Homo sapiens: one gene and its partners. The protein of the gene in region 1 interacts with the protein of each later gene in a biochemical or structural test. Each region holds a gene or a part of one and is shown in the gene's direction. Other genes may lie near its edges.

Region 1 (3,500 bases):
TCACTCTATTGCCCAGGCTGGAGTGCAGTAGCACGATCTCGGCCCACTGCAACCTCTGCCTCCTGAGTTGAAATGATTCTCCTGCCTCAGCCTCCTGAGTAGCTGGGATTACAGGAGCCTACCACCATGCCCAGCTAATTTTTGTATTTTTAGTAGAGACGGGGTTTCACCGTGTTGGCCAGGCTCGTCTTGAACTCCTGGCCTAAGGTGATCCACCTGCCTTGGCCTCCCAAAGTGCTGGCATTACAGGTGTGAGCCACCGTGCCCAGCCTGAATTTTATATTTTTGGTAGAAACAGGGTTTCACCATATTGGCCAGGCTGGTCTCGAACTCCTGACCTCAAGTGATCCGCCCGCCTCGGCCTCCCAAAATGCTGGGATTACAGGCACGAGCCACTGCACCCGGCCTGGGTTTTTAAAATTATATCTTTATTGAGGTATAGTGGACATAAACTGCAGCTATTTCAAGTGTACAATTTGGCTATTCTCAGCCTATGGGGTAGTCCTACTCCAGAGAAGCAGTAAGAAAAAAAGAATAAATTGTACAATTCCATGAGTTTTGACATATGTGTACAACTGTGAAGCCATCACCACAATTAAAATAACTCCCATTTCCCCACCCTTTGTTGAATATTTGGAGAGTGATAGATAGATGAGTTATCTATGCCCCTTTGTAATCCACCCCTCTCTACCCAATATCTTATTCACTGTAAACTGCTGATCTATTTTTTATTTTTAGAAATTAATTTACATTTTCTAGAACTATATATAAATAGAATCATAGAATATATGGTCTTTTATTTTTGTTCTAGCTTGTTTCAGTATAATTATTTGAAATTTATCTACATTTTTATGTGTAGTTTTTTTTTTCTTTCTGAATAATGGTTCATTGTTTTTTGTTTTAAGACAGGGTCTTGCTGTGTCACCCAGGGATGATCATGGTTCAGCATAGCCTCAACCTCCTCAGCTCAAGCGATTCTCCCACCTCAGCCTCCTGAGTAGCTGGCACTACATGCACAGGCCACCATACCTGGCTAATTTTAAAATTTTGTTATAGAGACAGAGGTCTCACTGTGTTGCACAGGCTGGTTTCAAACTCCTGGCCTCAAGCTATCCTCCTGCCTTAGCCTCCCAAAGTGCCGGGATTATAGGCGTGAGCCCCTGCACCCAGCCACATTGTACTGATATGATACAGTTTATTCATTTACCTGTTCAAGGACATTTGAATTTTTTTCTAGTTTTTGAATGCAACATATAAAGCGACTGTGAACATTCACGTACAAGTATTTGTGTGGATATATGTTTTCATTTTTCTTGGGTAAATACTTAGCAGTGGAATGGCTGGATTATAGAGTAGGAATGTTTTAAAGATACTTTTTAAATGAGAAAAGGTTTTTCTATTTGCCCACATATTGTCATTTCCAGTGCTTTCATTCTTTCATGTGATCCAGATTTCCTTTTGGTAATATTTTCTTTCTGCCTGAAGAAATTCCTTTCATATTTCTTATAATGCAGATTGGTGATAAATACTTTCCACTGTTGTTTATCTAGAAAAGTATTTTGCCTTTATTTTGAGGGAGGATGTTTTTGCTAAGTATAGAATTCTAGGTTCACAGTTTTTAAAATTATTTAACTTTTATTTTTTAATTGGTAAATTAAAATTGTATTTTATTGCATACAATATATTTGTTCACAGTTTTCTCCTGTCAGTACTTTAAAGATGATGTCTAGGCTGGGCGCTGTGGCTTACGCCTGTAATCCCAGCATTTTGGGGGGCCAAGGCAAGTGGATCATTTGCGATCATGAGTTTTAGACCAGCCTGGCTAACATGGTGAAACCCCGCCTCTACTAAAAATACAAAAATTAGCTGGGTGTGGTGGCGCTCACCAGTAATCCCAGCTACCCGGGAGGCTGAGGCATGAGAATCTTGAACCTGGGAGGCAGAGGTTGCAGTGAGCCGAGATGGTGTCACTGCACTCCATTCTGGGTGACAGAGCAAGACTGTGTCTCAAAAATAAATAAATAAGGCTGGGCGCGGTGGCTGACACCTGTAATCCCAGCGCTTTGGGAGGCCGAGGCAGGCGGATCACGAGATCAAGAGATTGAGACCACCCTGGCTAACACGGTGAAACCCTGTCTGTTCTAAAAATACAAAAAAAATTAGCCAGGCGTGGTGGTGGGCGCCTGTAGTCCCAGCTACTTGGGAGGCTGAGGCAGGAGAATGGTGTGAACCCAGGAGGCAGAGCTGGCAGTGAGCCGAGATCGGCCACTTCACTCCAGCCTGGGTGACAGAGCAAGACTCCGTCTAAAATAAATAAATAAATAAAGAATAAAAATAAAGATGATTTCTAGTTGGGCTCAATGGTTCATGCCTGTAATCTCAACACTTTGAGAGGCTGAGGCTGGGGGACCTCTTGAGGCCAGGACTTTAAGACCAGCCTAGGAAACACAGCAAGACCCCATCTCTACAAAAAAATCTTAAAAATTAGCTAGTGGCTTGAACTTGTAGTTCCAGCTGTTCAGGAGGCTGAGGTGGGAGAATTGCTTAAGCCCAGGGGGACAAGGCTTCAGTGAGCTAGGCAAGCCTGGGTGACAGAGCAAGATCCTGTCTCAATTAAAAACAAAACAAAACAAAACATCCTGATGAGAAGTCTGCTACTATCCTTATGTTCCTGTCTATGTAATTTTTCTTCTGGTCGCTTTAAAAATGATTATGATGTGCTTGTGGGGGGATCACTAAGCTTCTTTGATTTATGGATTTTTTTTTTCTTTTGAGACAAAGTCTCACTCTGTCGCCCAGGCTGGTGTGCAGTGCCACAATCTCGGCTCACTGCAACCTCCACCTCCAGGGTTCAAGCGATTCTCCCTGCCTCAGCCTCCCGAGTAGCTGGGATTACAGGTGCCCACCACCTCACCTGGCTAATTTTTGTATTTATTTATTTTTATTTTATTTTTTTAGTAGAGACAGGGTTTCACCATGTTGGCCAGGCTGGTCTTGAACTCCTGACCTCCAGTGATCCGCCCACCTTGGCCTCCTGAAGTGCTGGGATTACAGGCGTGAGCCACCTTGCCCAGCCCATTATTTCTTACAAAGAGTTCAAAATGAAGAAAAAGAACAGTTCTTTTTTTCTTGGGACTGCGATTACATATGGTCCTGCAGGTGGTTGATGCACTGTTCATTTTTGTCTTTTTCCCTGTTTCATTTTGTGCAGTTGTTCACTGATCTTTACTTCTGTAATATCTAACCTTCTGCTGTCAATCCCTCCCTCCCTCCCTCCCTTCGTTCCTTTCTCTCTCTTCTCTTCCTCTTCCTTTTCTCTTCTCTTTCTTGCCTGTGCAGAGCAGGGCTGCTCCATAGGCAAAGTAGCCCAGCGTATTTTTCATTTCAGATACTGTATATCCCCTCTAGAAGTTTAATTTGGATTTTTTTTCATGTCTTCCATTTCTCTCCTCATATTTATTATTTCCTCTTCTTTCTTTTTTGAGATGAGGTCTCACTCT
Region 2 (3,500 bases), on another chromosome or scaffold:
CCCCATGGTTACATTTTGTTTTATGAACCTATTTCTTCAGTGTTTATATAGTTACACAGTTTTATTGCCTTTACCCTTGAAGTTTTATGTAGTATAAAGCAGATTTTTTTTTTTTTTTTTTTTTTTTTTGAGACGGAGTCTCGCTCTGTTGCCAGGCTGGAGTGCAATAGCGTGATCTTGGTCTACTGCACCCTCCGCCTCTCAGGTTCAAGTGATTCTCCTGCCTCAGCCTCCCGAGTAGTTGGGACTACAGGTATGTGCCACCACACCCAGCTAATTTTTGTATTTTTATTAGAGACAGGGTTTCACCACGTTGGCCAGGATGGTCTCGATCTCCTGACCTTGTGATCTGCCCACCTCAGCCTCCTAAAGTGCTGGGATTACAGGTGTGAGCCACCGCGCCCCACCGCAAATATTTATTTATAAAATTGTATTTTCACGTATCGATTACTGTTAGCGTTAGATAAATTTATTGGATTACTCAAATGAATATTTGCTGAAGTGGTTGCTTAATTGGAAATAAGGGTTCTGAGTCCCTAACAGTATTTTTGTTAAAAGATTGTCATATTGACTAAGCCAGTAGGGGTCCCTAAAGTCTTTCTGTTTTCGCTTTTTGGGTATCAGTTTTTGTGAATGAACAAATGCTGACAGGATCTTTTCTTTTTGCCTTGCGAGATCTTGGTTTCAGAAATCAAGTCACTTCTCTGTTTCTATGAACACAACAATGCAAACCTAGAATACATGATTTGAGATGCAATATGGTATAGACTTACGTGTCTTTACTTTTCAATATTTTATGTTCTTTGTTTCTGGCCAGTAAAGATTATGATTGTATTGTTTGTTTTCTGTTTTTTTTTGAGGCAGAGTGTCGCTGTGTCACCCAGGCTGGAGCACAATGGTGCAATTTTGGCTCTGCTCACTGCAACCTCTGCCTTCCGGGTTCAAGTGATTGTCGTGCCTCAGCCTCCCAAGTAGCTGGGATTACAGGCTCCCACCACCACACGTGGCTAATTTTTGTATTTTCAGTTGAGACGGGGTTTCACCATGTTGCCCAGGCTGGTCTCAAACTCCTGGCCTCAAGCAATCTGCCCACCTCAGCCTCCCAAAGTGCTGAAATTACAGGCACTAGCCACTGTGCCCACCTTTTTTTTTTTTTTTTAAAGAAAAAAAAGAAAAGTCTCACTCTGTTGCCCAGGCTGGAGTGCAGTGGCATGATCAAAGCTCACTGCAGCTTCAGCTTCAAACTCCTGGGCTCAAGGAATTCTCAGCCTGCTGAGTAGCTGGGACTATAGGCACATGCCACTAGCCTGACCATTTCTACCAGTTTTGTCTTTGCTAATACATTCTCCTGTTTTTCACCAAAGGAAGTAGTCTATATTCCTTGAGCTCCCATGGCTTGTTAGTACTTCTCATATTACCCATCACATCTACTTGTACTATAGTTATTTTGTATAGTTTATCTTTCTGATTAAGTTATAAGCTCTGTGGAGGCAGGAATCAGCTCTTCTTTTTCTCCATATCCTTCAGAGTCCCTGGGACTATGTTTCATACGAAGTAAGTGTCTAGTACATGTTTGTTGCACTGAAATGACAGTGAGTATATGAATTGGCCAGGCTGGTCTCAAAATCCTGGCCTCAGGTAATCCGCCCATCTCAGTATCCCAAAGTGCTGGGATTACAGGCGTGAGCCACTGCACCTGGCCGTGCAATGAATTTTTAAATGAAATATTAAGTATATAGAAAAGTTTAGAGAATAAACTTTCATTGATTTTTCAGCTATTTGTTGATTTTTTTTCTTCATGGGAAATTTAAACATTATGAAAGTTTAATCTTTTTACTTTCTATGGGTCTATTTAGATTTTCTTCTTGAGTGAGTTTTGGTAGTTTATCTTTCTAAGAATTTGCTTATTTCATCTAAGTTACCTAACTTGTTGACATAGAGATGCTCACAGGGTTTCCTTATACTACTTTTTATTTACATAAAGTCAGTAGTAATGTCCCCTCTTTCATTCTTGATTTTAGTAATTTGAGTCTTTTCTCTTTTTTTCTCGGGCAATGCAGCTAAAAGTTTGTCAATTTTGTTGATATTTTCAAAGAACCAGCTTTTGGTTTCATTGATTTTTCTCTATTATTCTGCCCTCTACTTAATAGTTTCTACCCTAACCTGTATTATTTCCATCTTTCTGCTTGCTTTGTTTTGTTTGCTTTTCTTTGGAAGGTTAGGTTATGATTTATCTTTTTTATTTTTAGAGGCAGAGTCTTGTTCTGTCACTTACGTTGGAGTGCAGTGGTGTGATCATAGCTCACTGCAGCCTCCAACTCCTGGCTCAAACAAACCTTCTGCCTCAGCCTCCCAGGTAACTAGGACCACAGGCACGCCCCACCATGCCCTGCTATTTATTTTATTTTATTTTATTTTTGAGACGGAGTCTCCCTCTGTGCCCAGGCTGGAGTGCAGTGGCGTGATCTCTGCTCACTGCAACCTCTGCCTCTTGGGTTCAAGCGATTCTCCTGCCTCAGCCTCCTGAGTGGCTGGGATTACAGGCACGTGCCGCCATGCCCAGCTAATTTTTAGTAGAGACAGGGTTTCACCGTGTTAGCCAGGATGGTCTTGATCTCCTGACCTCATGATCTGCCTGCCTCAGCCTCCCAAAGTGCTGGGATTACAGTCGTGAGCCACCGCGCCAGGCCTTTTTTTTTTTTTTTTCTGATGCAGTCTCACTCTCTTGCCCAGGCTGGAGTGCGGTGGTGTGATCTCGGCTCACTGCAACCTCCGCCGCCCGGGTTCAAGCAGTTCTCCTGTTTCAGCCTCCTGAGTAGTTGGGACTACAGGCGCACGCCACCACGCCCAGCTATTTTTTGTATTTTTAGTAGAAATGGGGTTTCACCATATTGGGCAGGCTGGTCTTGAACTCCTGACTTCGTGATCTGCCCACCTCACCCTACCAAAGTGCTGGGATTCAGGCATGAGCCACCATGCCCAGCCATGCCCTACTAATTTTTTTTTTTTTTTTTGAGATGGAATCTCGCTGTGTCTCTCAGGCTGGAGTGCAGTGGTGCAAATTCAGCTCACTGCAACCTCCGCCTCCCAGATTCAAGTGATTCTTCCACCTCAGCCTCCCGAGTAGCTGGGACTACAGGCGCGTGCCACCACGCCCGGCTAATTTTTGTATTTTTAGTAGAGAGGAAGTTTCACCATGTTGGTCAGGCTGGTCTTGAACTCCTGACCTTGTGATCTGCCCACCTCAGCCTCCCAAAGTTCTGAGATTACAGAGGTGAGCCACCACACCCAGCCACCCTGCTAATTTTAAAACATTTTTAGAGCCAGGGTGCTGCTTTGTTACTCAGGCTGGTCTCAAACTCCTGGCTTCCAGCAGTCCTCCCACCTCAGCCTCCCAAAGTGCTGGGATTACAGGTGTGATTCACCACACCCAGCCTTCTTTTCTAATATAGCTGTTTATAGCTATGAATTTCTCTCTAAGCACTGCTTTTCTTGGAGCC
Region 3 (3,500 bases), on another chromosome or scaffold:
CTGAGCTGGGTCTGCAGTGATGATAGGAGTTAGCTAGACGGGCTGGGGAAAGTAGGACAGAGGCAGGCGGGTCTCACGATTCACTCCCTCTTTTTATTTTCTTGGCTGGAAATGAAAATTCCCCTTTGCCCTGACCTCTGACACAAGGAATGCCTGCTTTCTCCCCAGGTTCATTGGAACATTTACAGTTAATGCAGAACTTTCAGCCAGTGAACAAGATAACCTGCAGACTACATTGGAAAGGAGATTTGCTATTTACTCTGCTCGAGATGATGAGGAATTGGTCCATGTAAGTGATCCTCCCGGATCACTGTTTTTTATCAGTACTGTTAACTAATGATAATGGCAGCCATGTGCCAGATGCCATTCCAGGTGTGTTACCGACACTACCTTATTCAGTCCTCATAATGACGTTGATAGCTGCTGAAGCCCAGAATAGCTACATGATGCCTCTAAGGTCTTTTCCTTGGTGAGCCTGAGAATCGAGATTGGGATCAGAGTCTGAGTGGAGGGCCTGTATGCTTTCCTCCCTATCGCCTCTAGTTGTGGTGTACCAAAAAGCCCGTAGTTTTTGGTCAGATGTGCTAGAAATATTTTCATTAATTTTTCCAATTTTGTCTTCAGAAGTCCCAAGGAAATGTTTTTTCAAATTGGATGCTGAAGTCCTTGAGAATGTGTTTTTGTATCTCACATTTGGGTGTTGACACTGGCAGGCAGCAGTGCAGTGAGGAGGGTTCTGTCCATAAAAAGGAATCGTGATGGCAGAGTGCTCCAGGGACAGGCAGGCTTTATCAAATGCCTACAGGCACCTGTAGGTAAGGCTCTGTCTGAATAAAACAAAAACAGAGATGGAAATGTGGTTTTATCCCTAGAAGATTCCTATTAATCCATACAGTTCAATCTGGGAGTCCCAGATTCTCTGGAGAAAAAGATGGTTGACATCTTTAGTTCTCTTCTTCCGTGTTGGCTTTAACAAGTCTAAGATATTTGGCAAGGCTGATAATTATGTTATAATGTGCTGCCAATTTTTTTGTTTGTTTGTTTTTGTTTTTTGAGACAGAGTCTCTCTCTGCCGCCTAGGCTGGAGTGCAGTGGTGCAATCTCAGCTCACTGCAACCTCCACCTCCTGGGTTCAAGTGATTCTCATGCCTCAGCCTCGCGAGTAGCTGGGATTACAGGTGCCCACCACCATGCCTGGCTGATTTTTGTATTTTTAGTAGAGATGGGGTTTCACCCTTCACCCTGTTGGCCAGGCTGGTAACTCATTAATATTTTAGTATTGTCCTCCCAGACTTTGTTCCTGTGTATGTGTGTACGTATGTATTTGTTTTGTTTATTTGTTTAAGCAAAATAGGATCACACAGCTTTTAAAGAGGGGGTACAATTCAGTGACCATTTAGTACATTTACAATGTTGTGCAACTACCACCTCTATTTCCAAAATGTTTTTGTCACCCCCAAGGGAAACCCTGTATATACGCATTAAACTCCTCATTGTTACCCCCCTGTCCCTGCTCGTGGCAACCACCAATCTGTCTTGTGTCTCTGTGGATTTACCTATTTAGGATATTTAGTATAAAAGAAATTATACACTATGTGGCCTTTTCTGCCTGTCTTTTGCTTAGTATAATGTTTTCAAGATTCATCTGCATTTTAGCATGTATCAGTATTTCATTAATATTTATAGCTGAATAATATTCCATTACATGTTTATACATTTTCTCTATCCATTTATCCATTGGCAGACATTTAGTTAGTTTCCACCTTGTGGCTGTTGTGAAGAGTGTTGTTAATAATGTCTATACATATATTTATTTACATACCCTGTTTTCTGTTCTTTTGGGTATATACCTAGGATTGAAATTGCTAGGTCATATGTATATTCTATATGTAATTTTTGGAGAAACCACCAAACTGTTTTCTGCAGTTACTGTACCATTTTACATTGCCACCAGCAATGAACGAGGATTCCAAATCTTTACCAACACTTGGTTATTTTCTGATGTTTTGATTATAGTCATTATGATGGGTGTCAAGTGATACCTCATTGTGGTTTTGATAGCATTTCTCCAATGACATGATGATGAGTGTCTTTTCATGGGCTTCTTGGTCATTTGTGTATCTTTTTTGAGGACATGTCTGTTCAAGTATTTGCCTATTTTTTAATTATGTTGCCTTTTTGTTGATGATTTGTAAGAGCTCCTTGTATATTCTGGATATTAGTTACCTATCAGATACATGCTTTCCACATGGTTTCTCCCATTTTGTAGGTTGCCTTTTTACTTTCTTGATGAAGTCCTTTGATACCCAAAAGTTTTGAATTTTGACAAAGTCCAAGTTACCTATTTTTCTTTTGTTCTTTTTGCTTTTGGTGTCGTATCTAAGATTCCATTGTCAAATCCAAGGTCATAAAGATCGACCCCTGTGTTTTCTTGTAAGAGATTTATAGTTACTGCTCTTACATACGTTGTGAGTTAATATTTGCATATATCAGGTAGGTGTTCAATATCATTCTTATGCATGTGGATATCCATTTGTCCCAGCATTATTTGTTGAAGAGACAATTTTTTCAATGGGGCTTGGATGGTCATGGCATCCTTTTCAAAAATCAACTGGCCATAAATGTATGGGTTAATTTCCAGCCTCTCAATTCTATGCTGTTGGTCTACATGTCTGTTCTTACGCCAGTACAACACTGTTTTGATTACTATAGCTTTGTAGTAAGTTGCGAAATCAGGAAGCCTCAGTGTAACTCTGTTCATTTACAGTGTGCTTTGGTTATCTGGGGCCTCTTGCAATTCCATATGAATTTGATGATCTGTTTTTCCATTTCTGTGAAAAAGCTGTGGAATTTTGATAGGGACTGCACTGATCTGTAGATTAATTTGGGTGCCATTGCCATCTGGTTATTAGGTCTTCCAGTCCATAAGCATGGATGTCTCTCCTTTTATTTTTGTCTTTAATTTCTCAGCTGTATTTTGTAATTTTCAGTGTACAGCCTTTTACCTTGGTTAAATTTTTTCCTAGGTACTTTATTCTTCTTGATGCTCTTGGAAATAGCATTGTTTTCTTAATTTCTCTTTTAGGTTGTTCATTGCAAATGTATAGAAACACAACTGATTTTTTTGTGTTGTCTTGTACCCTGCAGCTTTGCTGAATTCATTTATTAGCTCTACTAGCTTTCTTGTGCATTCTTTGAAATTTTCTATGTATAGGATCATGCCATCTATGAGTAGATCATTTTACTTCTTCCTGTCCAGTTTGCATGCCTTTTTCTTGCCTAATTGCTCTGGCTAGGACTTCAAGTACAATGTTGAATAATGGTGGTGACAGCAGGCATCCTTGTTTTGTTCCTGATAATTAGAGGGAAAGCTCTCAATCTTTCACCATTAAGTATCATACTAGATCTGGGTTATCACGTTGACTCAGTTCCCTTCTATTCCTAGTGTTCTGAATTTTTTTTTTTTTTTTTTAATCATGAAAGCCTGTTGGATTGTCTCA
Region 4 (3,500 bases), on another chromosome or scaffold:
ACCCCCATGCCCGGCTAATTTTGTGTTTTCAGTAGAGATGGGGTTTCTCCGTGTTGGTCAGGCTAGTCTTGAACTCCCGACCTCAGGTGATCCGCCTGCCTCGGCCTCCCAGAGTGCTGGGATTACAGGCGTGAGACACCACATCCGGCCAAGAATACTATTTTTAAACATTGCTTTACTGTGTTTCACATATTGGAGGATCACCTTGTGTTTTTCCCCATAGGTTGATTTGTTTCTAAGAGAGAAATTCTCTGTTCCATGGCCTAGATCTTACCCAGTACCCACTTTTGATTTCAGAGACTTGTTATGATTGTAAGGGGACTAGAAAAAAGGGTGGATGGCTGAATACAAGCTAGTCTCACTTCACTAGAAATGTCCACATCCTAATAGTGAACCTGATTTTTATAAGCATTTAAGTGCTCTTTCATGTTCCCTTTCTACCACATTCAGAAATTGCTACTTTTCCTTTAAAAACATTTAATTTTTGTTATATAGATTTTCAAGATGTGGAATAAAGAACTTTATGTGAGAGAACAGCAGGATGCATATGAATTCTTTACTAGTCTCATTGATCAGATGGATGAATACCTCAAGGTAGTAAAAGTTGTACTTTCCCTCTAACTCCCTCAAACTCTAATTATAGTATGAGAATAGTGTCTTAGCATTTGGGGTTACTATGAAACTGACGAATCAGAAATTGATTATCTTTAACATAAGAACTATAATGTATTCTGTGTTTAAACATCAAAACATAACACAGATCAATAGAATTGTATATTTTCTCTTTTTTTTCTTTTCTTTTTTTTTGAGACAGAGTCTCGCTCTGTCACCCAGAGTGGAGTGCAGTGGCACAATCTCAGCTCACTGCAACCTCTACCTTCCAGGTACAAGAGATTCTTGCACCTCAGCCTCCCGAGTAGCTGGGATCACAGGTGTGCACCACCACGCCCGGCTAATTTTTGTACTTTTTGGCAGAGATTGGGTTTCGCCATGTTGGCCAGGCTGGTCTCAAACTCCTGGCCTCCAGAGATTCACCCACCTCAGCCTCCCAAAGTGCTGGGATTACAGGCTTGAGGTACCATGCCTGGCCTAGAATTGCATATTTTCTTAATTCATCTAACGCTCAGTAAAGTATGTAACTCTTAATCTCTACTACATAGTAATAACCATTCCTACCTACATATTCTTTCTGTGTGTCTACTGAAATAATCTGGCCTCAGAAGAGTGCTGCAGTCACTGGTGAGCTGATGGCCCTGTGCAGAGCAGAGAGTGCTCTGGCACAGGGGAGAAAGGAGCCAGATTAAAAAGTTATTCGTGGTGCTGTTGAAACCCAAAGCTCTCTACCTCTACCCTGTAAGCCATGTGGCAGACTTCCTAAACGGTATTGCCTTCTCAGATCCCGCTGTCACTGCCAGCATTGGCCTCTCATCAGTAGGCACAATTCTTCCATTTTTTAAAGTAACTTGCAAATTGATGGCATTCTATCCACAAGAAAAAAGAAAAGATTGCTGAGAGTTGCCCCTAACTTGGTCCTTGTAGCACAGGGAGAAGGATTCAGAATCACCCTGGAGAACACTCTCTTGTCATTAGCTCTACCTGACCCATCCCTCCTCCTCTTCCTCTTCTGATCGTCTGCATCACTCTGACAGTGGGGCCAATAATGGGTTTAGCCTCCATTCACCACAGCTGATACTACCAGAATGACGCGTTTTGTTTTGGTCCTTAAATTGCAATGTGTTAATAAAATTCTGTATACTCATAAGTTCAGGAGGCATCACTTAAAACTGTAACTTTTCATTCCAACAGAAAATGGGGAGAGACCAAATTTTTAAGAATACATTTCAGGGCATCTACTCTGATCAGAAGATCTGTAAAGACTGTCCTCACAGGTGAGTGAAGATATCACCGACACAGGAAAAATGATCATCCTTTTGAAGTGATTTGTTTAGTATGTTGTAAATTTTGCATTTGTTAAGAGACTTAGAACTCTCTCCCTGTCAACAGATCTATAAGTATTTAGTGACTTAAATTTCTTTGCTTTCTACTTCCAGAAGGAGAAAAAATTTCTTTGTGGGCTTAAGAAAATATTCATTGAAATTCATAATTTTAGGCAATTCTTAATTGTCACAAAGTGGCATTTTAACTTAGTAATGGACTTTTAAAATATTGAGGGACTCCCAGATTAAAAATGTAGTTCTGTGTTCAAGCTTAGGTATTATGATAATTGAAGAGTTTTAAATTCCATTGTTGATTGTGGGTTTTCTGTTATTTCCTAATCAGATATGAGCGTGAAGAAGCTTTCATGGCTCTCAATCTAGGAGTGACTTCTTGTCAGAGTTTGGAAATTTCTTTGGACCAATTTGTTAGAGGAGAAGTTCTAGAAGGAAGTAATGCGTACTACTGTGAAAAGTGTAAAGAAAAGGTATTATGTTTGCCCTTTTTAAAAAACAAGATTAATTTGTTATTCGCATAGTGCGTCTTTGTTTTATGTAAAATCAGTATTAAGCTCCTACTGTTATTTCCATTAGATTGTGTCATTACTTGTTTTCACATGGATCAGAAAGGCCTTTGCATTAATTACTGTGCTGTTTTATTTTCTCCATGGAGATCATTCAGATTTGCTCTTTTTCCTTTTTTTTTTCTTTAGAGAATAACAGTGAAAAGGACCTGTATTAAATCTTTACCTAGCGTCTTGGTAATTCACCTAATGAGATTTGGGTTTGACTGGGAAAGCGGACGCTCCATTAAATATGATGAACAAATAAGGGTAACTTTTTTTCTTCCTGAAATTTTTCACAACCATTCATTTCCTCACTCACTTCTTTTTTTTTCCTTTTTCAATTTTCATATTCTGTCTACCATGTTAAGGCTGTTGTCTCAGCATTATGAAGAGCCCCTTATCTTAGGCAGCTGCTGTTACCGGAATAGGCAGATCTGGAAACAGTGGCCCTCATTTCTAGAAGGCATCCTAGTGATTACTATGAAGGAAAATGCCTTCCTTAGGGCTCAAACCAGAGGCTACTTTAGACGTTCCCAGACTTAACATTTCTGAGATTTTATACTTGAACTGGTGAGGTAGTTGTTCCTAGCTTAAACTAGGAAAACACTTCCTCTTATTTGGATCTCACTTAACTGGGTACTGCTGTATATGTTAGTAATCAACGTTAATATGGTCTTTTTGCTTCTACATAGTTTCCCTGGATGCTAAACATGGAGCCTTACACAGTTTCAGGAATGGCTCGCCAAGATTCTTCTTCTGAAGTTGGGGAAAATGGGCGAAGTGTGGATCAGGGCGGTGGAGGATCCCCACGAAAAAAGGTTGCCCTCACAGAAAACTATGAACTTGTCGGTGTCATCGTACACAGTGGGCAGGCACACGCAGGCCACTACTATTCCTTCATTAAGGACAGGCGGTAAGAGTTTCCTGAGGCAGCACTTACTCACTTTCTGCCCTCCCCTGCTCTCCGTTATCATCCATACTCACCGCTGTGGTGCAGGGA
Region 5 (4,061 bases), on another chromosome or scaffold:
ATATTAAAAACAAATGTACCCAAGCGCCTCAAAACTAGTGATATTAATACACTTGTACCTTCTAACAGTGCTTACGTGAAGTACCAAAACCTAAAATAAACCAAGCAGAGTAGCTGACTTGTAAGAAAACTGCTCTGCCTGGTGAACTTCAGCATAGAAGAGTGGGCTCCACCTTAGATTTTCCACCAGCAAGAGGACAACAGTCTATCACTCTTAAACAATAAACAGGGTAAGACTGAAAGTTGTGTCTATTTGCAAATCCGGATAATGTCGTAACTATACCCAACACGTACACAGGGATTGGGGTAAGGGAAAATAATTACACTCCTGAATAAATGTTCTAGTCAGTTAAATTTTCATCCGGCCTACAACCTTTCCTCCTCCACCTATTATACTTACCATGCAATTTTTGTGTCTTAGCAGATACATTCTTCAATGCCATAAAAAGCTGATCTTTTTAATACTAACATTTTACTGACGTGATATTAAAATAAGCAAATGGTCCACTTTTTAAAGGATTATTCAAAATCAACAAGCATTATTAAAGCTGTTAAGAAACAACTTTGGCCTCAAGATTTTTGCTAGCTTCATAATAATTTACTTCTCTTAGTGATGTTCAAGTATAACAGGTTTAGTTATAACTACATCCTAAAGAAGCACAGGGGACACCCAAATAATATTAGGGAAAAAAAACCCCAAATATATATATATATATATATTTGCTTAGTGGTACATATATAATAACCTTTCTTCCTTCCTTAAACCAGAATTGAACCATCCCATAATAGAGCCAAACTTTTATTGAGTGCTGTGTGCCAGGTACTGTGTTAAGCACTTTCACATATCTTGGGAGCTTTATTCTCATAATTCTCACAAGGGAATAACCTGAGCATCAGCTGTGTGGAGTGACCTACACCTTGACCATGATTCTGGGGGATGATGAATGAAAATGCAAAGTATAAATCTATACTCCTTAGGAAAATGCCTCTACTACAACACAAAGGAATCTCTCCATTTCTATCCTATTGAACCCCCAATTGAATCCTGTATCTTTTCTCTGAGCTACAATCTTGAAAGAAGAAAGTCACTGTGCTGTGTTATAAGAATGTAAATATTTTATGCTGTCAGTTGTTTCCTCAGAATTTATAAGTCAAAGGGTCTACATCAGTGTCAGAATCATTTAAAATTATTCAGTGTATTGAAAAGCAAGTAAAACTCTAGGTATTTCATGTTTACATCTGAAGGAGACATTAGTTCATCCTCTACCCCTTTTCTAAATGATGAAACTCATGAGGTCTAGCAGAGACCAAGGACTAATACAATCAAGAAGCATATTGTGTACACCTCAACAGATTTTCATTAAAAAAAATTGTTTGATACAAACCTACTGTAGTTCATGAATTTACTATGTGTAATCATCAACTCTTCACTTTTAAAAGAAAGTATCACTTGAATCTATTTTGTAAAGTTTTTAAACATCTACTTGAGCATTTGCATTAGCAGTATTAATCAACCTGAGAATCAGAAAAAAAAAAAAAGGTGCAAACATATTTGCCTTTGGCACGAGGACAAGTAATTGGTGCAGTCCAGCTCTAAATAATAATGTAATGCTTGGTCTGCCTCTGCTACATTGTGATTCACATATTGCTTCCCTATCCACAAATCTATATTTGATTTAGCATATAAAAGAAGGGAAAAAGCAATAAAAAGACAAATATGTGGTTTAGTTACATATACTTTGCTTCTTTCCAAGTTCAGAACTGTGAAAATAGGCAAATAGCTTATCCCATTGGGGCACTATAAGAGATTCCTAATAAAATTACTCGTAAAATATACTTTGAGATCGAAGAGAGTTAATTTAAAATATAAAAATCAAAGAGAGTGCCAGTTGATGAGTTTCTACTCCTTTCTGTAAATAGCATTAACTGTTCTAGAAACTTCCAAATGTTAATCTGATAGCGCAGCACAATTATATCTTAAAATAGTCATAGACACAGGAAGCACAGATACTATATTCACATTAATTCACATATGTAATCTCTATCATTAAATGATTTCTATAAAACCTCAAGTTTCTAATTAGGATTTGTGGTGTAAAAAAAGGCAAATTGGTAGCTGGGTTCTTTTCAGTAAAGACACAATCAACTAGCAGAATTAAGATGCTAGTCCACCTTATATGCATTTTAGGATCTGGTATATTAGTGCAGAGGTACTTGCAGCAGGATGCATGAATCCTGCCTTTATATAAGGCTTTGTGGGTGTCACCATTCTGTGCACTTTATTAAAACTACTCCACCCCCCAAAACCTAATAAAAATAATTGTTGCTTATGACTTGGGGAATATTTGGTGAAGTTGCTAATAAAGTACATTGTTAAATGCAACATGATTTCACATTGTAAATGTCTTGAAAATTCAGTTTCCGCTACATATTTTCTTCATAAAATAAAATTTTTATACAACCCTTGTCCTCCAATTTTTCCAATAATCTGCTTTATTAGGGCCATCACAATAAAAGTTTGGGGCAAGAAGCCATGCATAAAGTGTTTCTAAAGTAGTGAATGTTTTCTGTTCTGTATCTTTTTTTCTTCTTATAATTTCTTTACAAATGTCAGATATTTCTCTTCATATTTTTGTTCTAGGCTTCTGTGCGACGATAGTCCATTTTTTTAATTTGTTTTAACTGACAAAAATTATATATATTTATCATGTATAACATTGTTTTGGAATATGTAAGTTGTGGAATAGTTAAATTGAGCTAATTACACATTATTTCATATGCTTATCATTAGATATTCCATTTTAATGGCACTTGTTTTTAAAAATGAAACAGAGTTTTAGGCACAATAGTCAGTTACTTCTGGCTCTGCTTTGTGGAGAAAGGTGTATGGACTGAAATCTCTGCACTCTCCAGATAATAACTTTCTAATGCTTTAAGATAACTAGATTGTTTTTAACTGTCTGGAAATTAAAAGAGACCTTAAAAAAAATTCACAAGTGTAACTAGTGTATGTAGAAATAACCCTAATTTTAGGGATATGCACATAAAAATGACATTCTGATATCAAAAATAACAGTTTCACTGTCCCTTCTCAGTGGCTACACACCTAGAAAGGTGCCATGTGCTTTCACTGGAAGTACCACACTTGCATTTCTGTGTTGTGATGTCAGTAGCAGAAACCCTTAGTTAGAGCTTGCAATTTAGCTCCCTTTTCTCCTGAAGAGGAATCAAGTTACTACCCTGTAGAGATACTTCATTCTTCTATTTGGTTTATTTAGAAATCACCTATTCTGACTGATCTTTAAGAATGAATGCTATAAAGAGCTACCAAATTTTCTTTCAAATTCATAAAACTGTTCACACTTTTTTGAAACAGGAGTTAATGCCGAGAATCCATCAGAAGTATCTACTGTTTAGAAGGAAATGGAGCAGCACCAAATGGGTCTAATTCGACTGGTTGGGACTGTTGGGACTGATGTGGAGTGATGCTTTGCACCACAAGTTCTGTAAAGGGCACGGCACCAAAATCATCCATTTTCAATACATCTGCACTATGGAATGACCCATGTAGTGAATTTTGTCTTGGCCGCCCTGGCAGGACAGTATTGTGATCAGCACGGATGTCGCTCAGGCCCTGATGTGGAGGGTGCCATGACAGGTCTGGAGAATGGAAGGGCTTGGCACCGAAGGGGTCCAACAGGCTCTCCTCAGGTTGTAAGACATTCCCCCTATCTTTCCCATCAGTCAGTGCAACACTAATGTTCTCCTTGGAGTCTGAGATGGTTAAAAATTCATTGCTACTTTGAGAGTCTCGGCGGCCCACTTTTTTGTGCCTGCGAGCCCTCTCTGGAGTGCGATAGGTAGGCTTCAAAGTCTTCTTTGTGCTAGTTGGCGTGCCATGATGCCGCTTCCCATTACTTTTGGACATATCCTGCTTTGTGCGCCTTTGGCGAGAGGACAGTTTCTGTAAGCTGCGCTGTTTGACTTTTTGCTGCTGGCTCCCCGTTATTTCATCAAAGGGCACAAGCCCAAAAAGGTCCTCATTGCTTTCACTTTTACTTG
Region 6 (3,500 bases), on another chromosome or scaffold:
GTGGGTTAAATATGAATACTATCCTGGTAAATCTCATATTATAAAGCTACACATTTTATTTTTGATTAATTCTTTTATATAAAATATAAGGAAAGCTCATACCCTGTGTGCTACAATTCAGCTATCTGTGATACATGCTTTTTCCTTCCATTAGTTTTGCCTTTTTAAGAACAGTTCCCATACTTGAATGTATTCCAGTGGAATTATGAGCATTTTCCCATTTTACTCTTTAAATCCTTTTGCTTTTAACTATCCAGTGTTGACATTTGTTAAAAAAAAAAAAAAATCTGAGGTGTTTTGCTATTCAGTTTTTTCCACTGGCATTTTGCAATGGTTTATCACTGAAATTATATCAGACTACTTAAAAACAATGCCAGGACTTCATGAGTACCTCTATCAGGAACATGTGGGATAATAGGAAAATAGATTAAAAAAAAATTTATCTATATAGAGTGTATTTTTTCTGACTGTTGGGATAAAATGGTGGGTAGCCAAATCTCCCCAGGATTTGACGTAATTCTTCAAGAATAAAACTGATGCCAGAAAAATCTCCACCATGGCCTGGCACAGTTTGGGAAGGTTGATGTTGCTGAAATGTAAAATAAACCACAGAACCACATAAGGGCTCAAATAGTGCAATGAGAGGATTTACTGGTGATTTTCTTAAAATGAAACAATGGAAAAGACGGGTGTTAGATTTATAATACGTCTCACTATTTTCTCTGTCTTATAGGGATTTTTTAAGCGAACAGTCCAAAATAATAAAAGGTACACATGTATAGAAAACCAGAACTGCCAAATTGACAAAACACAGAGAAAGCGTTGTCCTTACTGTCGTTTTCAAAAATGTCTAAGTGTTGGAATGAAGCTAGAAGGTAAGATTCTTCTAAAGACTACTGCCTATTAAAACTCTCCAAGGACATGAACTGTAAAACAACATTGTACTTATAGCATGGTAACATTATTTTCCCAGCATTTTAACACTACCGACAATACTGTAAGATCTTTCTATGTTTCATCTGCAGAATAGTCTGAGTCTCATTTAATCATGGTGAAATCTACTAGGAAAAAAATTTAAAATATTAGTTGTCTTTCCCCTGCCCACCCCCTTTTTTTTAGTCTGGGGAGCAGATGCATTAGACACAAAAAAGGGAAAAAGATCAGGTTATGAAAATAAGACTAAAGCAATCCAACTGAAAACAAGAATAATTTGTAAAACTATTAAAAGTAAAATATTCTTTGAGTTTTTAAATCAAGATACCCTTGGAAAAGTTTGATTTCAATTCTTTTTAAAAGAGGTGTGCTTGTCACAAGTGTTAACTACTAATTTCATGATTCTTAAGAGTTAAAGCCTTTAATGGTGAAAAGGAGTTTCTCATGTAGGATATTATCTTTGATAGTGTAGAAATGTATTTTTTTAAAAGATAATGACTGAGGCTGCAAAATAAAAAATTGAGAATCAGGAAACATGAAAAATAACGAACTATTAAATCATTAGCAAAGGTCTGAAAAGAACAAGAAAGTGGCTCCTGAAAAGCCACACTTGAACTTTGTTGAAAGAGCAGACCCTATACTACAATGTACAGATTGGCAGGCAGTAAAGTTAATATGTGACTGCTGTAAATAATTTGTAGTTCATGGACTACTATGGTATGTTGCTGCTTTCTAGCCTCTGACCTGCTTGCTTTCCATGGATTAAATATACTGCAAATAAAGCAATAACAGGGATACATATCACCGATGGTGCTAGATACAAGAGTGCATTTTATTTGATCAATGAGGCACAGGCTATTTTTATTTGGAACTTTTCTGTTATATGGAACTCATACTTGATAGAAATACTAAAAAAAAAAATCATATAAATCTGCTGAATAGCTAACACGCTTCTTCCGAACAGAGGTAGCCACTTTGGTTATTATGAGGACTGTTAATGTCAGTATCATTTTTAAGAGATCATGAAAGGAAATAATTGATGCTTATTAATTTTCTTATTACCAATCACTATTATTTCCCAAATAGCAAAATATTGTGGTAGATGCTTACTACATACAGTAAGAGACTCAGAAGATAAGTAAATGTTGTGATTTTGCATGATGTCATTTAATTCCTTTTCAACAAAAATAATAAGGCTGCATTTCTTTACCTTAAATAATTAAACTTTCTTTTTTTTAAGTTAAGCTTTCACAATTGTAAATCACTTGTGGTACATGCTCATGCTTCCTTAGGAGTGATATGAAACAACTGAATATTCAATAAATTATCATCCAGATGAAAAACTCTTTATAATCTTGTGCAATATTCTGTATACTTAGAATTTACAATAAATTTTTAATGTGATACTAATCCAAGATAAAAAGCTCAAAAACTTAACCTCCAGCAAGTTCAATATGTCACAAGCTATCAGAGGTCTCTAGTTTCTGTCTAATTGCCATTGGCCACTATGGACTTAGAGGGAACTGCTAACTAACTTATTAGTCATGGCCGCAGACTCCACACACCACTGTCGCAGAAGACTCTCTTGACAGCTTCTGAAATGAATTTGTTTTAATTATGTCCAATTCTACTTAAATTAAAAGCAGTAACTGGTGGTCATCTGATGTGGGCTCATCAAGTCCAGGTGAACATGATTTTCCAAGAACATGTCCCCACCCCTTTTGTTATTGCAACAAGGTGGCCAAAATGGCTTTCAGGGAGGAAGGTATCTTGTGGGAAAGTATTCACAATTTAATCCAAAATTGGGTAACTCAGTTCCACACCCCTGCAAAAGAAAACCCCAAAGCAGTTTGGGTTTCCATAAGGAACTGGCATAATAAAAGCATATACTCTTAGTAGAACGACTGATACTCTTTCTTAGCAATGTGAAATATTTCTTTTCTTTTTTTTGAGACAGGGGTTTCACTCTTGTTGCCCAGGCTGGAGTGCAGTGGTGTGATCTTGGCTCACTGCAACCTCCACTTCCCGGGTTCAAGCGATTCTCCTGTCTCAGCCTCCTGAATAGCTGGGATTACAGGCACCCACCACTACGCCTGGCTAATTTTTTGTATCTTTAGTAGAGATGGGGTTTCATCATGTTGGCCAGGCTGGTCTTGAACTCCTGACCTCAGGTGATCCACCCGCCTTGGCCTCCCAAAGTGCAGGGATTACAGGTGTGAGCCACCGCACCACGCCTATGTGAAATATTTCTATGTCTAACAAAAATTATGAACTCTCCTCCATCCACAAAAGGGTTAATATGTCCCTATGTGGCCAAAGTATTTTTTTGATGACGACACACACTTGGAGGAAGGAATTCATAAATAAAGAGGACATGGTTTTTTGGGAAATCTTTGTGGGCTATTGTAACGAAAACAACCACACACATACCACTTCTTGTCGATTTACATTTCTAAATATCTGAAGAATGCTAATAATTTGCACCTTATTTATACCTTTCCTTCCTTCCCCCCACCCCACCCCCAACAGCTGTAAGGGCCGACCGAATGCGTGGAGGAAGGAATAAG
Region 7 (2,978 bases), on another chromosome or scaffold:
GAGACAGTCCCGCTCTGTCATCCAGGCTGGAGTACAGTGGGGCAATCTCGGCTCACTGCAACCTCCGCCTCCCGGGTTCAGGCAATTATTCTGCCTCAGCCATCCAAGTAGCTGCAACTGCAGGCGCCCGCCACCACACCTGGCTAATATTTGTATTTTTAGTAGAGACGGGGTTTCACCATATTGGCCAGGCTGGTGTCGAACTCCTGACCTTGTGATCTGCCCGCCTCAGCCTCCCAAAGTGCTGGGATGACAGGCGTGAGCCACCACGCCCGGCCCAGTATAACGATTAAAGTCAGGAAAAGTAAAGTGGACATCGCCTTCTCTAATCCCGAATCCAGACTCGGCCTGTCGCCCCCATGCTCCAATTGTTCCTGTTTCTCCTGGTCCGGGATCCCATGCTGGGTCTTGTCTCTCGAGCCCCTTCGTCTGTCTGGGACAGTTTCCTGCTTTGTTTTCTGTGCTCCGGGCACCGAGCAGCATCCCAGCCCGTTATTCATGGAAGGCTACTCGTTCCGTGTCGCTGGGTGCTAGTTCTGGTCACCTGTCCACCCCCCACCTCCCTGGGAGAACGTCACCCTAGAAACAGTGCGAGAGTCACCCATGGGAGCTCACCTGGTCCCATCCTCCCCCTTCCTCCCTGACACAGGCAGTACGTCCGAGACACAGTCGTGGGCACCATGGGCCTGAAGGCCACGGGCCGGCTCTGCACCGTGGCTAAGGCAAGGGGGCTGCGAGCCTGCAGGTGAGCCACCCCCACCCATGCCCTGGGCTCCAGGGGAGGCTGCGAGGCCCCTGAGGACTCTCCTCAGCTTCCTCATTGCAGGGGAGAGCTGAGGGACACCATCCTAGACTGGGAGGACTCCCTGCCCGACCGGGACCTGGCACTCGCCGATGAGGCCAGCAGGTCTGACCCCCCACCCCCAGGGAGCCCATGGTGGGGCGGGGCGGGACGACAGCAGAAACACAGCCAGCTCCAGCATGGGACAGTGGCTGAGGCTCACAGGCAGTGAGGGGAGGCTTCCTGGAGCAGGTGGGCCAGGCCAGGGGCTGCACACACGCACTCACACACACTCGTCACCTCATGGCTCTGGGTGGGTGCTACACAAGGAAACCAAGGCTTCCGCCAGGTGTCTCCTCTATCCAGTGCTGCCCAGCCGGGAGGTGACCGAGCCAGGGTCCCACCCTAGGTGTCCAAGCTCTTACCACACTGTGATACTCCCCGGAAGTGTCTAAGGGCCCGCCCAGATCAATGACCCCGCCAACGGACCGCAGAGGAGGGCAGGGCGGGATCCCAAAGGCTGACTCGGGAGTGGGGCTGGCCTTGACCGCCCCGGTGAGCACAGATGGCCTAGGTGTGAACCGGCCCCCAGGGCTGGCTCGGGATGTTGGCAGGAGCAGGGCATCAGGCTCAGCCCACGCTCCCCGGCCCCAGGAACGCCGACCTGTCCATCACGCTGGGTACATCGCTGCAGATCCGGCCCAGCGGGAACCTGCCGCTGGCTACCAAGCGCCGGGGAGGCCGCCTGGTCATCGTCAACCTGCAGCCCACCAAGCACGTAGGTGTCTGAGCCTACCCCTGCCCAGGGCCACCATGCACCCTCTGTCCCCCACGCCTGACCCGTCCCGCCCCTCGGCAGGACCGCCATGCTGACCTCCGCATCCATGGCTACGTTGACGAGGTCATGACCCGGCTCATGAAGCACCTGGGGCTGGAGATCCCCGCCTGGGACGGCCCCCGTGTGCTGGAGAGGGCGCTGCCACCCCTGCCCCGCCCGCCCACCCCCAAGCTGGAGCCCAAGGAGGAATCTCCCACCCGGATCAACGGCTCTATCCCCGCCGGCCCCAAGCAGGAGCCCTGCGCCCAGCACAACGGCTCAGAGCCCGCCAGCCCCAAACGGGAGCGGCCCACCAGCCCTGCCCCCCACAGACCCCCCAAAAGGGTGAAGGCCAAGGCGGTCCCCAGCTGACCAGGGTGCTTGGGGAGGGTGGGGCTTTTTGTAGAAACTGTGGATTCTTTTTCTCTCGTGGTCTCACTTTGTTACTTGTTTCTGTCCCCGGGAGCCTCAGGGCTCTGAGAGCTGTGCTCCAGGCCAGGGGTTACACCTGCCCTCCGTGGTCCCTCCCTGGGCTCCAGGGGCCTCTGGTGCGGTTCCGGGAAGAAGCCACACCCCAGAGGTGACAGGTGAGCCCCTGCCACACCCCAGCCTCTGACTTGCTGTGTTGTCCAGAGGTGAGGCTGGGCCCTCCCTGGTCTCCAGCTTAAACAGGAGTGAACTCCCTCTGTCCCCAGGGCCTCCCTTCTGGGCCCCCTACAGCCCACCCTACCCCTCCTCCATGGGCCCTGCAGGAGGGGAGACCCACCTTGAAGTGGGGGATCAGTAGAGGCTTGCACTGCCTTTGGGGCTGGAGGGAGACGTGGGTCCACCAGGCTTCTGGAAAAGTCCTCAATGCAATAAAAACAATTTCTTTCTTGCATCTCAGTGTGTTTACTTTATTTTATTGAGCCAGAGTCTCACTCTGTCACCAAGGCTGGAATGCAGTGGCGTGATCTCAGCTCACTGCAGCCTCTGCCTCCTAGGTTCAAGCAATTCTCCTGCCTCAGCCTCCAGAGTAGCTGGGATTATAGGTGTGTGCCACCACACCCAGCTAATTGTTTGCATTTTTTGTAGAGATGGGGGTCTCACTATGTGACTCAGGCTGGTCTCAAACTCCTGGGCTCAAGCAGTCAGGCCACCTTGGCCTCCCAAAGTGCTGGACTTAACGGGCGTGAGCCACTGTGCCCAGTGAGTGTTTAAATTCCCTATTTGTGGCAGGTCCTCGCCCCCCTGGGTCAGGAGTTCGTGGTCCCCTCCTCCCTGGACCAGCTGCTTGGGCTCCGTTGCAATCCCTGCCCCTCAAGCCTGGGGGCCGAGGAACAAGGGCTCACCTCTCCCCCCACCCCGCCTCTGGAGGGATCAGGCCAGTTTTCTGATGAT

What was found.
Region 2: the proteins of DDB2 (region 1) and RAD51 form a complex in vitro, tested with the Homo sapiens proteins (one study listed by BioGRID).
Region 3: the proteins of DDB2 (region 1) and XPC form a complex in vitro, tested with the Homo sapiens proteins (one study listed by BioGRID).
Region 4: of the proteins of DDB2 (region 1) and USP24, one has a biochemical effect on the other in vitro, tested with the Homo sapiens proteins (one study listed by BioGRID).
Region 5: the proteins of DDB2 (region 1) and PAQR3 form a complex in vitro, tested with the Homo sapiens proteins (one study listed by BioGRID).
Region 6: the proteins of DDB2 (region 1) and NR5A2 form a complex in vitro, tested with the Homo sapiens proteins (one study listed by BioGRID).
Region 7: the proteins of DDB2 (region 1) and SIRT6 form a complex in vitro, tested with the Homo sapiens proteins (one study listed by BioGRID).

What each region holds. Positions count from the first base shown.
Region 1 is NC_000011.10:47,221,474-47,224,973, forward strand, and holds part of DDB2 (DNA damage-binding protein 2), read left to right. Parts: intron 1-3,500.
Region 2 is NC_000015.10:40,701,674-40,705,173, forward strand, and holds part of RAD51 (DNA repair protein RAD51 homolog 1), read left to right. Parts: intron 1-132; coding exon of another isoform or gene 133-253; intron 254-3,500.
Region 3 is NC_000003.12:14,161,602-14,165,101, reverse strand, and holds part of XPC (DNA repair protein complementing XP-C cells), read left to right. Parts: intron 1-168; coding exon 169-289; intron 290-3,500. UniProt on the Homo sapiens protein: Involved in global genome nucleotide excision repair (GG-NER) by acting as damage sensing and DNA-binding factor component of the XPC complex. Has only a low DNA repair activity by itself which is stimulated by RAD23B and RAD23A.
Region 4 is NC_000001.11:55,096,865-55,100,364, reverse strand, and holds part of USP24 (ubiquitin carboxyl-terminal hydrolase 24), read left to right. Parts: intron 1-495; coding exon 496-594; intron 595-1,806; coding exon 1,807-1,889; intron 1,890-2,280; coding exon 2,281-2,422; intron 2,423-2,647; coding exon 2,648-2,767; intron 2,768-3,192; coding exon 3,193-3,413; intron 3,414-3,500. UniProt on the Homo sapiens protein: Ubiquitin-specific protease that regulates cell survival in various contexts through modulating the protein stability of some of its substrates including DDB2, MCL1 or TP53.
Region 5 is NC_000004.12:78,911,378-78,915,438, reverse strand, and holds the end of PAQR3 (progestin and adipoQ receptor family member 3), read left to right. Parts: 3' UTR 1-3,405; downstream 3,406-4,061. Other genes in the region: BMP2K (BMP-2-inducible protein kinase), read right to left, coding at 3,406-4,061. UniProt on the Homo sapiens protein: Golgi-scaffold protein which modulates its interactors acitivies by anchoring them to the Golgi apparatus. Functions as a spatial regulator of RAF1 kinase by sequestrating it to the Golgi apparatus.
Region 6 is NC_000001.11:200,044,710-200,048,209, forward strand, and holds part of NR5A2 (nuclear receptor subfamily 5 group A member 2), read left to right. Parts: intron 1-733; coding exon 734-875; intron 876-3,462; coding exon 3,463-3,500. UniProt on the Homo sapiens protein: Orphan nuclear receptor that binds DNA as a monomer to the 5'-TCAAGGCCA-3' sequence and controls expression of target genes: regulates key biological processes, such as early embryonic development, cholesterol and bile acid synthesis pathways, as well as liver and pancreas morphogenesis.
Region 7 is NC_000019.10:4,173,609-4,176,586, reverse strand, and holds the end of SIRT6 (NAD-dependent protein deacylase sirtuin-6), read left to right. Parts: intron 1-649; coding exon 650-745; intron 746-826; coding exon 827-907; intron 908-1,435; coding exon 1,436-1,559; intron 1,560-1,640; coding exon 1,641-1,970; 3' UTR 1,971-2,478; downstream 2,479-2,978. UniProt on the Homo sapiens protein: NAD-dependent protein deacetylase, deacylase and mono-ADP-ribosyltransferase that plays an essential role in DNA damage repair, telomere maintenance, metabolic homeostasis, inflammation, tumorigenesis and aging.